Linked DNA regions of Homo sapiens: region 2 is linked to region 1. The links come from fine-mapping of genetic effects on gene expression. A gene starts in region 1. The other region holds a variant in brackets. All regions are shown on one strand. Distances are between the middles of the regions.

Evidence for each region. PIP is the estimated chance that this variant, and not a neighbour inherited with it, causes the effect.
Region 2: its variant is the best candidate, but not a certain one, in a credible set for the expression of MTA1 in whole blood (Lepik 2017, PIP 0.77).

The regions. Positions count from the first base shown.
Region 1 is chr14:105,417,039-105,422,396 of GRCh38, forward strand. MTA1 (metastasis associated 1) reads left to right here and starts at 2,789. Exons shown (of 21, transcript NM_004689.4): 1 at 2,789-3,025. The coding sequence starts at 2,998. It overlaps MTA1-DT (MTA1 divergent transcript), which reads right to left and starts at 2,701. Exons shown (of 2, transcript NR_125385.1): 1 at 1,984-2,701; 2 at 543-1,271. RefSeq lists enhancers at 986-1,655, 4,334-5,001, 5,002-5,358 and silencers at 2,353-2,452, 2,483-2,532, 2,623-2,882.
Region 2 is chr14:105,460,261-105,465,618 of GRCh38, forward strand. MTA1 (metastasis associated 1) reads left to right here. Exons shown (of 21, transcript NM_004689.4): 9 at 98-197; 10 at 505-693; 11 at 2,924-2,998; 12 at 3,233-3,291; 13 at 3,772-3,887; 14 at 4,156-4,307; 15 at 4,414-4,603; 16 at 4,834-4,923. Among named protein-coding and RNA genes, the nearest start is that of CRIP2, 12 kb to the right of the region's middle. RefSeq lists enhancers at 3,994-4,516, 4,517-5,038. The variant G/T (reference allele first, on the strand shown) is at 2,652.

The DNA of each region.
Region 1 (5,358 bases):
TTTTTGTATTTTTAGTAGAGATGAGGTTTCACTATGTTGACCAGGCTGGTCTCGAACTCCTGACCTCAGGTGATCCTCCTGCCTTGGCCTCCCAAAGTGCTGGGATTACAGGCGTGAGCCACCACGCTCAGCCCAGTTGTGTTTTCTTCCATACTGGGTTTCTCACCGGCCCCTCACACCCTCGATGACTTGTTTTTCTGTTGTTGAATGACATGGATGTGGTCACGTGCCACCTCTCAGCAATGCTCCCACCTCAGCCTCCGGGGATATGCCACTACTTCTGTAGTGCTTTCTGACGTGAAAGCTCTTTCCTGAATGTCTATTCGCTCTGCTACTAAGTGGATGGAGTGGATGGATTTTTTTTTTTTTTTTTTTTTTGGAGACGGAGTCTCGCTCTGTCGCCCAGGCTGGAGTGCAGTGGCATGATCTCGGCTCACTGCAAGCTCCGCTTCCTGGGTTCACGCCATTCTTCTGCCTCAGCCTCCGGAGTAGCTGGGACTACAGGCGCCCGCCACCACGCCCAGCTAATTTTTTCTATTTTTAGTAGAGACGGGGTTTCACCGTGTTAGCCAGGATGGTCTCGACCTCCTGCTCGTGATCCTCCCGCCTCAGCCTCCCAAAGTGCTGGGATTACAGGCGTGAGCCACCGCACCCAGCTGGATTCTTCTTAATTCTTTGTTTTTATTGTTTGACTCACCTGAGGTCTTTGGACTTTGCCTCTGAGCTGGCTTAAGGGCAATCCACCTTGTTCACTGGTCTGGAGTGGGGAGGCAGAGTATGGGTCGGCTGGAGGAGTGGGGCTCTGTGCTCTCTTTTGAGAGTTTACTAAACGTCACTCTGCATGGTGAGGGGTGTGTCCTCTCCGCTGGGGAGGCCTGGCTTGAATTTCAGATTGCCTCCCTGGGACACCAGACCCTGTGCTGTGCTCCCTCAGAAGGACAGCCTTGACTGTCTCCACTCCAGCAGTCAGTTCTCTCCACTCCCACTGGGAGAAGGAGCAAAGGCTGGTGTCTTCAGGAGGCTCCTCTCCAGGCTGGGGCCAGGGAAGAGTGTGCATGTCACTGTCAGGATGTGTCCCAGTGGTGTGGCTGGGTTCTCAGGGTGAAGCTCGTCCATTTCTGGGATGGCAGCGGAAGCAGGCACTACACACGCAGCTTCAGGGGGCTCTCCCCATGCTTCCTAGCTGCCTGGCACTTTCTGGTGTTTCTGGCTAACTTTCTGGCCATGCCAGGAGTTGGTGGAAGGAGATCTCAGGCTGCAGCTTTGCTTTCCTGCTGAGGAGACAGAGGTAGGCTGGGGCTGTAGGACAGGGGAGGCCAGCAGCCCCACCTTCCTTCTGGAGAGACGCTGCCTGTCTGTCATTGCCCCTCTCCTGCACCTGGCCGCTGGCTGGCTGCTCTTCCCTCCCAATCACCAGCAAGCCAGCTCCTGTTCCCTGCAGCCCAGCCCGCAGGATGTGTCCTGGGACCCATAGCCCTCTCTCCCCAGAGACAGCACCGCCCTGCAGCTCGGGTTCCTGGCCCTGTGCTAACCCTGGTGGGGCTTTCCTTACTGGTCTGCTCTGCAGCCATGACATTGTGGCCACCGCTCTCCTTGGGACCCCCACCTGGCTTTCCTCCCAGCACATGCTGTTTCCTACCCACCTGGATGGTGTCCTGTGTGCTGGATTCCCCATGCTGTGTCCCCAGCATCCTGACCATGTCTGTCCCGCCTGCCTAGATCTTGCACCGTGGCCACGGGGCTCCCTCCTGATAGCCCTGAACGCTCCGCTCCATGTCCTACAGAGAGGGATGTCCCAAGTAGATGTCAGCTCCCTCCAGCATCTGAGCAGGCAGGACAGAGACCCACGGTGCTGCTCACATCAGCAGCCTGGAACCCCGAGACAGCTCCTTTTGCTCACCTCCCCCAACACTGATGTTGCACCTGTCTCCAAGCCACTCTGGGACCATCTGTTTCTCTCCATCTGGGAAGCCCCCTTCGCACCTCATGCTCTTCCTGGCTGGGGCGTCTGGGTCACTCACTGGACTCTCCTCTCCTTAGACCTGTGCACAAGCACACACGGGAAGGCATCCTGACAGGTGGTGGGAAGAGAAGGCAGCTGCCTCACTGCGGAAAGAGCACGGCCGCTCCTGGACTCCAGCCCTGTTGGGGCTGGCGGGGTCAGCAGGCGCTGGGTTCCAGCCTCAGGTGGGGTCTTTGGAGGTGGCCTCTGGGCACAGGCACCTCCTCTGCGGCCTTCTCACCAGGTCACGGTTCAGGGAGGCTTTGCCGGCTACGGAGCCTGCCCACACCAAGGCGCGCACGACCACCTGTCCAGAGATGCCACGCGGGCTGGGCGGCGAAGGCCAAGGACACGCCCTGCCTGGTGTCGGGGGCAAAGGTTAGGCCTGGAAGGGAGGTGTGGGGTGGGGACCCCGAGGCCAGGGCTGGGCCGCTGAGCTTCAGGGCCCTTGGGGGGCTCAGGGAGGAATGCCGGAGGACCCCAGCATCAGGAGGAACCCCTGGAGAGCTACGGCAGGACTCACCTGTGGGGCACAGGGAGGGATCACCAGGGAAATGGCCCTTGTGGAGGATCTCCCCTCTACCCCCAGGGCACCAGGGGAGGATCTACCAGGGGGTTCTGGTGGAAGGGCCCACCCGGGAAGCGGCGCGCGGGGAGGACTCGGGGGCGCCGAGAGGAACTGTCCGGGAAGGGGCGCGCGGGCCGCGGGCGGCGCGGGGTCGGTAACGGCCCGTGCGGTGGGCGGCGGCGCCCGAGGCCCCTCCCCGCCGCCCGCGGCCGCTCCTCCTCTTCCTCTCCCGCCCGCGCCGCGGCCCTCCCGTCCCTGCGCGGCCTCGGCGGCCTCGGCGGCGGCGGCGGCGGCGGCGGCGGCAGCAGCGCGGCCCCTTTAAACGCCTGCGGCGCCCCCCGCCCCCGCCATCGCGCCTCCATTTTCCCGGCCGCCCGCGCCGAGCGCCGCGCCCGCCCCGGGCCCCTCCGCCGCCGCCGGCCCGGACATGGCCGCCAACATGTACAGGGTCGGAGGTAAGGCCGCACCGCCTTTATGCCCGGCCCCGACCCGCCCGCAGCCCCCACCCGCCGCCGCTGCCGCCTCCCCCGCCCCTCTGCCCCGCAGGCCCCGCGCCCCCCGCCCGCCCTCGCGGCCCCCGGCTCCTTCCCGAACCGCCCCCCGCCGTGCTCACCCCAACCCAAAATGGCCCCGCGGGTCGGCCCCATCGGGGGCGGGCGGGGCTCGGCGGCCCGGGGGTGGGGGGCGGCCCACCTGTTGGGGCCGAGGGGGCGGCCGCGGGGGTGGCGGGGGGGCGCGGGGCCTGCGGGACATCCGGGGGTCCGGGGCCGGGAGCCCCCAGCGGGAGCACGTGGCCTTGGGAGGCGCCGGCTGCCGGTCTGGGAGCAGGAGTTTTGGGGCTGTGGGGTCTCCCCCGGCCCGCGGCCCTGTGCTGGGACTCCGGTGCATCCCCTCTGGGGATGGGGAGCCCCGGTGAGGGGCCACGTTCCTCCCTAGAGCCCTCCTGCAGCCTGGCCCCGGGGCTTCCCCCAGCAGGGATCCCTCAGGGGGTCTTCAGCAGGGAGCGAGCATCCCGAGCACGCCTCTAAGTCCCCCCAAACTTTTCCCTGCCTCTCGCTCACCTCAGCCCATTCGGGAGGCGCTTTGCAAGGGTTGGGGAGAGGCCGGAGGGCCTCCTGGGCAGGGGCTTCCTCCGTGGGCCCAGCCTCCTGTTGCTCGGGCCCCCCGGGCCTGCAGCTTTGAGCCTTGCCCTCCTTCGTGTGCCTGGGACTCCGTGGGGTCTTTCACAGGAAGGTGGGGGGTCGTGTGCATTCCATCATTCCATCAGCGCCTCCCTCCCCAGGACTCTGAGACCCCTCCCTGCCTGTGACCCTCTCGGGCAGGTGCTCATTACCTTTCCCACCTGCAGCCTGCGCTGCTGGAGGGAGCTGGGGTCACTCCCGCTCTGGCTTGATCCCCATGCCCCTGACCCCGAGTGCCCAGAACACTCTGTGTCTCTCGAGCGTGGCTTCTGCTGCCTTGGACGCCGTGTGGTCTGGCCGGCCAGTCCTGTGACCTTGGGGACGGTGGGAGCCCCCTACATCCCGTCTGTGAGATGGGCGGTCAGTCCGCATCAGCAGCTCTGGGCCTCCCCTGTCCTCTCAGAGGGGCGGTGGGCCTGTACCCCATCCAGCGGCAGCCCCTCCCACAGCCTCATACAGCTTTGCCAGGTCCCTGTGTGGACCCAGGTGCGCTGAGCCCACCCCACGCTCAGGGAGCAGCCTGGGTGCGGGGTCCCTCGAGGGAGGGGCCTGTTCCTTCCTGTTCTTTCTCCCCACCTGGAGACCCCCCTTCCAGCCTGACATGAGGGCCCAGTTTCTCACCCTGGCAGAGAGGATGCCTGCTGCCTGGGCTCCAGCCGGGCCCACTGCGCATGGTTTTGGGATTGGTCCCAAGAAGAGCTCTCCCTGCCCCCACCCATGTTGGGGGTGGGGAGTGGTGGCAGCTTTGGGCTCTAGGGCTGGGGACACCCCGACCCCAACTCATGCCTTCCTAGTGGCTGCATTGCTCGGCCTTCAGGCCTGCCTGCCTGTGATCTTGGCGCCAGCCTGGCTGCCCCCCCTCCAACCTTCCCATGCCTCGGTTTCCCCATGGTGTGGGTGAGGACCTCGTCTCTCAGCCGTCCTTTTGTGCCCTGTGGCAGCTGTGCTGTGGCTGATGAAAGCCAGGACCCTGCCTTGTCCCATCCCGGAGGTGCAGCTCCCCTGGGCCCCACACAGGCTTGGGAGGAGCCCTTCGTGGGGCTGCGCCGCCCTCCCCGAACCCTCTGTCCCCCTGTGCCCGCAGGCCCGTCCCAGGGCCTCACTGACCCACGCACTCCAGTGCTGTGAGGGTGGGTGGCCTGGACTCCTAGGCTGTGGCGGAGGGGCCCCACCATGCCTGGCAGAGATGCTGCTGGTCTCTTTTCCTGTGATGAGGAGCATGGGAGGTTGGGTGCTGTCTGCTGGCAGCACAGCCACGCGTGGGATCCAGACTGCTTCTGCGTGTGCAGTCCGTGGTCACTGTGGCCGGGTGTGCTCGGAGCTGTCAGGCCCCCCACGTGCCCGCCCCGAGGACTTCCTCTCCCTGCAGGTGAGACTGTAGGCCTCCCCCTCTCTACTCTGACTGTCCCTATAGGAGAAGCGGCATTTATCCCTGGCTTCTGGACCGGAACCCTGGGTTCCGGCAGGACCCCGGCAGAGCCCTGTGGTCGCAGTGGGCTGGGCATTGCAGGTTGGCTTCCTGTCTTGGTGCTCGCTCGGGGAGGTGGGCGTCTGGATTCTTGAGCCCCCAGACAAGAAAGAGGAAGGTGTGCAGTGTCTCCTGAGCA
Region 2 (5,358 bases), 43 kb after region 1:
TGCCCGTGGCCGCTGGTCCCTGGCGCCTGGGGAGCGGTGTGCCTGTGGGGAGTCCCTGCTTGGCCGACACTGTGGTCAGCGCATCTCCTTTCCCCAGCTCTGTGGGCACCTTCGCACGGGCCCTGGACTGCAGCAGCTCCGTCCGACAGCCCAGCCTGCACATGAGCGCCGCAGCTGCCTCCCGAGACATCACCCTGGTAAGTGGGCCCAGGGCGGGACAGGTGAGACCTGGGGTGGCCCATGGCCCAGAGTGGCTGCGCCCTTCTTCCTACCAGGGCCCAGCACCTGCCCCAGGTATTCAGGACCCCTGCAGAGGTGCTGTCCCACCTGGACTGGCCTTTCCTATCCACCCCAAACTCGGCCAGACTGTGCTGAGGGTGCAGGGAGGGTTGTGCTGCTGGGCCTGCAGTAGGGGATCCTTGAGGTACTGAGGGAGGGGGTACCGTGCCACAGGTGCAGGAAAAGCCACCTTGGCCCGGGTGACCCTGCTGTCTCCTGCCGCAGTTCCACGCCATGGATACTCTCCACAAGAACATCTACGACATCTCCAAGGCCATCTCGGCGCTGGTGCCGCAGGGCGGGCCCGTGCTCTGCAGGGACGAGATGGAGGAGTGGTCTGCATCAGAGGCCAACCTTTTCGAGGAAGCCCTGGAAAAATATGGGAAGGATTTCACGGACATTCAGCAAGATTTTGTGAGTACCGTGGGTGGCGATGGGGGAGTGGCTGGCCATGCCCATCTCCAGGTAGGCTGCGGGGGTGTGGGCTCCACATCCCACTCTGCCCTGAGGGAGCCTGTCCTGCACCCTGATTCCCTGTGCGGAGCTGCATGAGTTCTGTCTCAGCTGCGCTCGGCCGCCATAGTCCTTCCTGTCACACTGGTTCAGCAGACAGGCATGGGGGCGCTGGTGGGGCCTGGGCATAGAGAGCCATGCTCCTGCCACCATTGCGTGATGAGGATAAGGGTTGGCCCAGGTGACGGAGGCCAGGGTATCCTCACGGAGACTTTCCCTTCCTTGCTGCCCCCTCCAGCCCCAGGCTTGGTTTTGCTTTGTTTTTGACTAAGCTGAACCTCTTGACTCCTCATGTCCTTGTTTTCTGTCTCACGTGAGTTTAGCCCAGCAGCAGGCCTAGAGAGTCTTCATGGCGTGGGGTCTCCCTTCCCTGTACCTCCACCTCAGGACCCCCACCCTCCAACCGTCAGCCCTCCTAAAATACTTCTAAATTAATCTGTTAGAAGAGCATCCCTATGTGGGGGTGGTGGGGCCCCCAACCATCAGCCCTGGGGAGGTGGAGACTGTGGCAGGGCAGGGAGGAGCCCCAAAGGGGCCGGGACACAGCGGGGTGGCTAGTATCTGATGAAAGCACCATCCGGGCAGCAGCGCACAGGCCAGCGCAGCAGAGGCTGGAGACGCATCTGGAATTCGGAAGAAACAAACATGGGGTTGGGTAGGGTGCCTAGACCTGAAGAGGAGGAGGGACAGCAGCCAGCTGTGAGGCTCCTGAGGACGCATCTGCTGGGGGCAGGAGTGCAGCTTTGTGTGGGGGCCTCTGGCCAAGGGGAGAGCTTGGCCGGGCGGGAGGAGTCCCTGACTGTCCCTGGGGCCAGCGGCCTCTCCAAGGCGGATACGGATCTCTCCAGGCTTAAAAACAAACCAAGATGAGCAGAACATGTTCAGACAAGAGGACGAGGGCTAGAAACAAAATTCACCAACTAGGCTCAGACCAGGGCGGAATTTGAGGGAGACCCTGCTGCACATGGTTCCAGCGGAGGAGACCCCAGTGCTGAGCCCACGTGATGCCTAGCGAGGCAGCGCTCAGGGGACTGCGGCTGCGGGGCCATGCCCAGGCACGGTCTCGGGGGGCTGCGGCTGCGGGGCCCTGTCCAGGTGCGGGGATGGGAGGCTGCAGCTTCGGGGCTGTGTCGAGGGAGCAGGCCCCGCTCTCCTTCCTGCCAGATGCAGTGGACCAGACTGAGGAACTATCTGAACCCTTATTTAATAAGACAGGTTTCTTAAATCCATGCCACAGCCCGGGCGCAGTGGCTCATGCCTGTAATCCTAGCACTTTGGGAGGCCGAGGCAGGAGGATCATGAGGTCAGGAGATCAAGACCATCCTGGCCAACATGGTGAAACGCCATGTCTACTAAAAATACAAAAATTAGTCGGGCATGGTGGCAGGCTCCTGTAGTCCCAGCTACTCGGGAGACAGAGGCAGGAGAATCACTTGAACCCCCGGGGGTGGAAGTTGCTGTGAGCCGAGATCGCACCACTGCACTCCAGCCTGGGCGACAGTGCGAGACTCTGTCTCAAAAACAAAAATGGCTGAGATGGCCGGGCATGGTGGCTTATGCCTATAATCCCATTTGGGAGGCCGAAGTGGGTGGACCACTTGAGGTCAGGAGTTCGAGACCGGCCTGGCCAACATGGTGAAACCACGTCTGTACTAAAAATACAAAAATTAGCCGGGTGTGTTGAGAGGTGCCTGTAGTCCCAGCTACTCAGGAGACAGAGGCAGGAGAATTGCTTGAACCCGGGAGGCAGAGGTTGCAGCGAGCCGAGATTGTACTACTGCACTCCAGCCTGGGTGACAGAGCGAGACTCCGTCTCAAAAACAAACAAAAAAAAGGCTGAGATGGAGGCTGGGTTGTCA[G/T]TGCCACCTCGGCAAGATCTCGACCTTGACCTTGTGCCAGCTCCTCTTCCCCTGGCGTCACTGTGTTTTGGCATCTGGCGGGGGGACCTGCTTCATCAGCTGCCCTCTGCACCTGCCTGCCAGCAGGGGCCTGGCCTCCGTGCACCAAGCACACCTCGCCCTCTGGCCTCCCGCCCCCTCTGTGGCCTTCTGGCCGCAGCCCTGCCCCTGCCTGCATGGTGTGCCTGCCTCCTGCCCCTTCCTGCTTGTGTGACACGCCTCCTCCCACCCAGCTCCCGTGGAAGTCGCTGACCAGCATCATTGAGTACTACTACATGTGGAAGACCACCGACAGATACGTGCAGCAGGTGAGCCCGCCCGCCACTCAGTGCCCGGGGTGTGCCGCCTCCCCGTCCTGCGCCCCATCCTCTCCCAGCAGGTGGGCGTGCACTGCTGCAGCAGGAGGGGAAGGAAGACTCCTGAGTCCCTGGCCCGGCTGTCCTCTCCGTGGTGCTCTCCTCTCCGTAGCCTCCAGCCTGTCTGCACTGCAGCCCCAACCTGGGCCTAGCCTGCTGACCTCTGACCTTCTCTTTTGTTTTAAGAAACGCTTGAAAGCAGCTGAAGCTGAGAGCAAGTTAAAGCAAGTTTATATTCCCAACTAGTAAGTGTGCCCTCACAGCCGTCGTCCTCGTGGCCCCGGGGGCCAGGGAGGGTGGGCACAGGGTGCTGGGGCCAGGCGGGTCCCAAGGAAACTCAAGCTCAGAGGCTGGGAAAGTTGGGGCAGCCCCCGGGAGGGCGGCCCAGGGCTGGGGGGTTCTGGCTGCAGACGCAGTGGCCATGTCTCTGTCGTCCTGGCCTCCTGGTCAGTAAGGGGGCATTGGGATTCCAGCCCACACCGCCAGGGTTCAGTCCCTGAGCTGGGCTCCATGCTAGGGGGAGCACGGGGGCCTGGAGAACGGCTCAGACCTCAGCAGTGGCTCCCAGGAACTGAAAGGGGAGAAAGGAAGATCCCTGCCGAGGCCGAGGGGTGCGAGGACGTGGTTCTGGACAAGGGGTGGTCAGCCGCGGTGCCTGCTGGGCACATGGGCCCTCGAGGTTTGTGCTCCTGCAACTCCTCTCGTCTCTCCTTTCCCTCTTTAAGTAACAAGCCAAATCCGAACCAAATCAGCGTCAACAACGTCAAGGCCGGTGTGGTGAACGGCACGGGGGCGCCGGGCCAGAGCCCTGGGGCTGGCCGGGCCTGCGAGAGCTGTTACAGTAAGTGCCCTGGATGGCCGGGGGCACACCGCACGCCCGCCTGTGGGCCGTGGTGCCTGCGTTGGCCCTGAGGGCTCCAGCATGGCCCAGCCTGCAAGGGGCCCACTGACGATGGGGGCTGCGTCCCAGGGGTGTGGTTGGGAGAGCCTCGGGGAACGTGTGGGGGTGCCTGGCGGGTGGGGGCGGCCGGCGTGGGGGTGGCGGGGAATACTCTGACATCGCTGGTTCTGCTTAAGAATCCGTCTATTTCCAACTTTGTTGTCCGTAGCCACACAGTCTTACCAGTGGTATTCTTGGGGTCCCCCTAACATGCAGTGTCGTCTCTGCGCATCTTGTTGGACATATTGGAAGAAATATGGTGGCTTGAAAATGCCAACCCGGTTAGATGGAGAGAGGCCAGGACCAAACCGCAGTAACATGGTAAGGGGGGGGACACCCGCCCTGCCTGCCATGAGCCTGTCGGCCACGCGGGTCCTCGGCCCCCGGTCATGGCGCTGTGTTGGGGCGGTTGCGCCCCCTTCCGCAGAGTCCCCACGGCCTCCCAGCCCGGAGCAGCGGGAGCCCCAAGTTTGCCATGAAGACCAGGCAGGCTTTCTATCTGCACACGACGAAGCTGACGCGGATCGCCCGGCGCCTGTGCCGTGAGATCCTGCGCCCGTGGCACGCTGCGCGGCACCCCTACCTGCCCATCAACAGCGCGGCCATCAAGGCCGAGTGTGAGTCACCCCAACGCCCCGCTTACTCTGTTCCTGCGGGTGGTGGGGAGAGAGCAGCAACCTTGGGGCCCAGCCTGTAGCCCCACTGGGAGTTCTGATCTCAGGGAGCCCCACGTCCTCCTCGGTGCTGACATGGCCGAGCCCAGTGAGGGCTCCCAGGTCAAGGCGCAGGCAGGGTCCCGTGCTCCCCTGGGGGTGCCCCACCCCTCACACCGTGTGGTACCCCGCAGGCACGGCGCGGCTGCCCGAAGCCTCCCAGAGCCCGCTGGTGCTGAAGCAGGCGGTACGCAAGCCGCTGGAAGCCGTGCTTCGGTATCTTGGTGAGCAGCCAGGCGTGCTGGGGGGCTCCCAATGCTGCCTGCAGGCAGCTTCTCACCCAAGCTCATGCACTGGTGCTCCCAGCCTTCTCTAGCTGGGAGCTCCTGGACAGCCCCCCAGGGCCTGGAACTGTCCTTTTGGGGTACTCTGCACCGTGCCAGGCTCAGGCAGACCCACTGGGACCCAGGCTGCTCCCTGCTCCTGGGGTCGTGATGGGGCCCAGTGCGGAGTAGCGGCCGCCCTGTCTTCTGCGGGGCCAGCCTCCTCAAGGCACACCCGGGGGCTTCCCTGCCAGTCTCGCTACCCTGTTCCCTGTGTTCTGATCGTCCCTGGGGCCTGAGGGTCTGGGGTTTAGGTGGTGCACACCCCTGCCTGTAATACCATTAAGGCAGCGTCGTACCTGCTGCCTGCAGGGAGTATACTTCCTGAGCCACGCC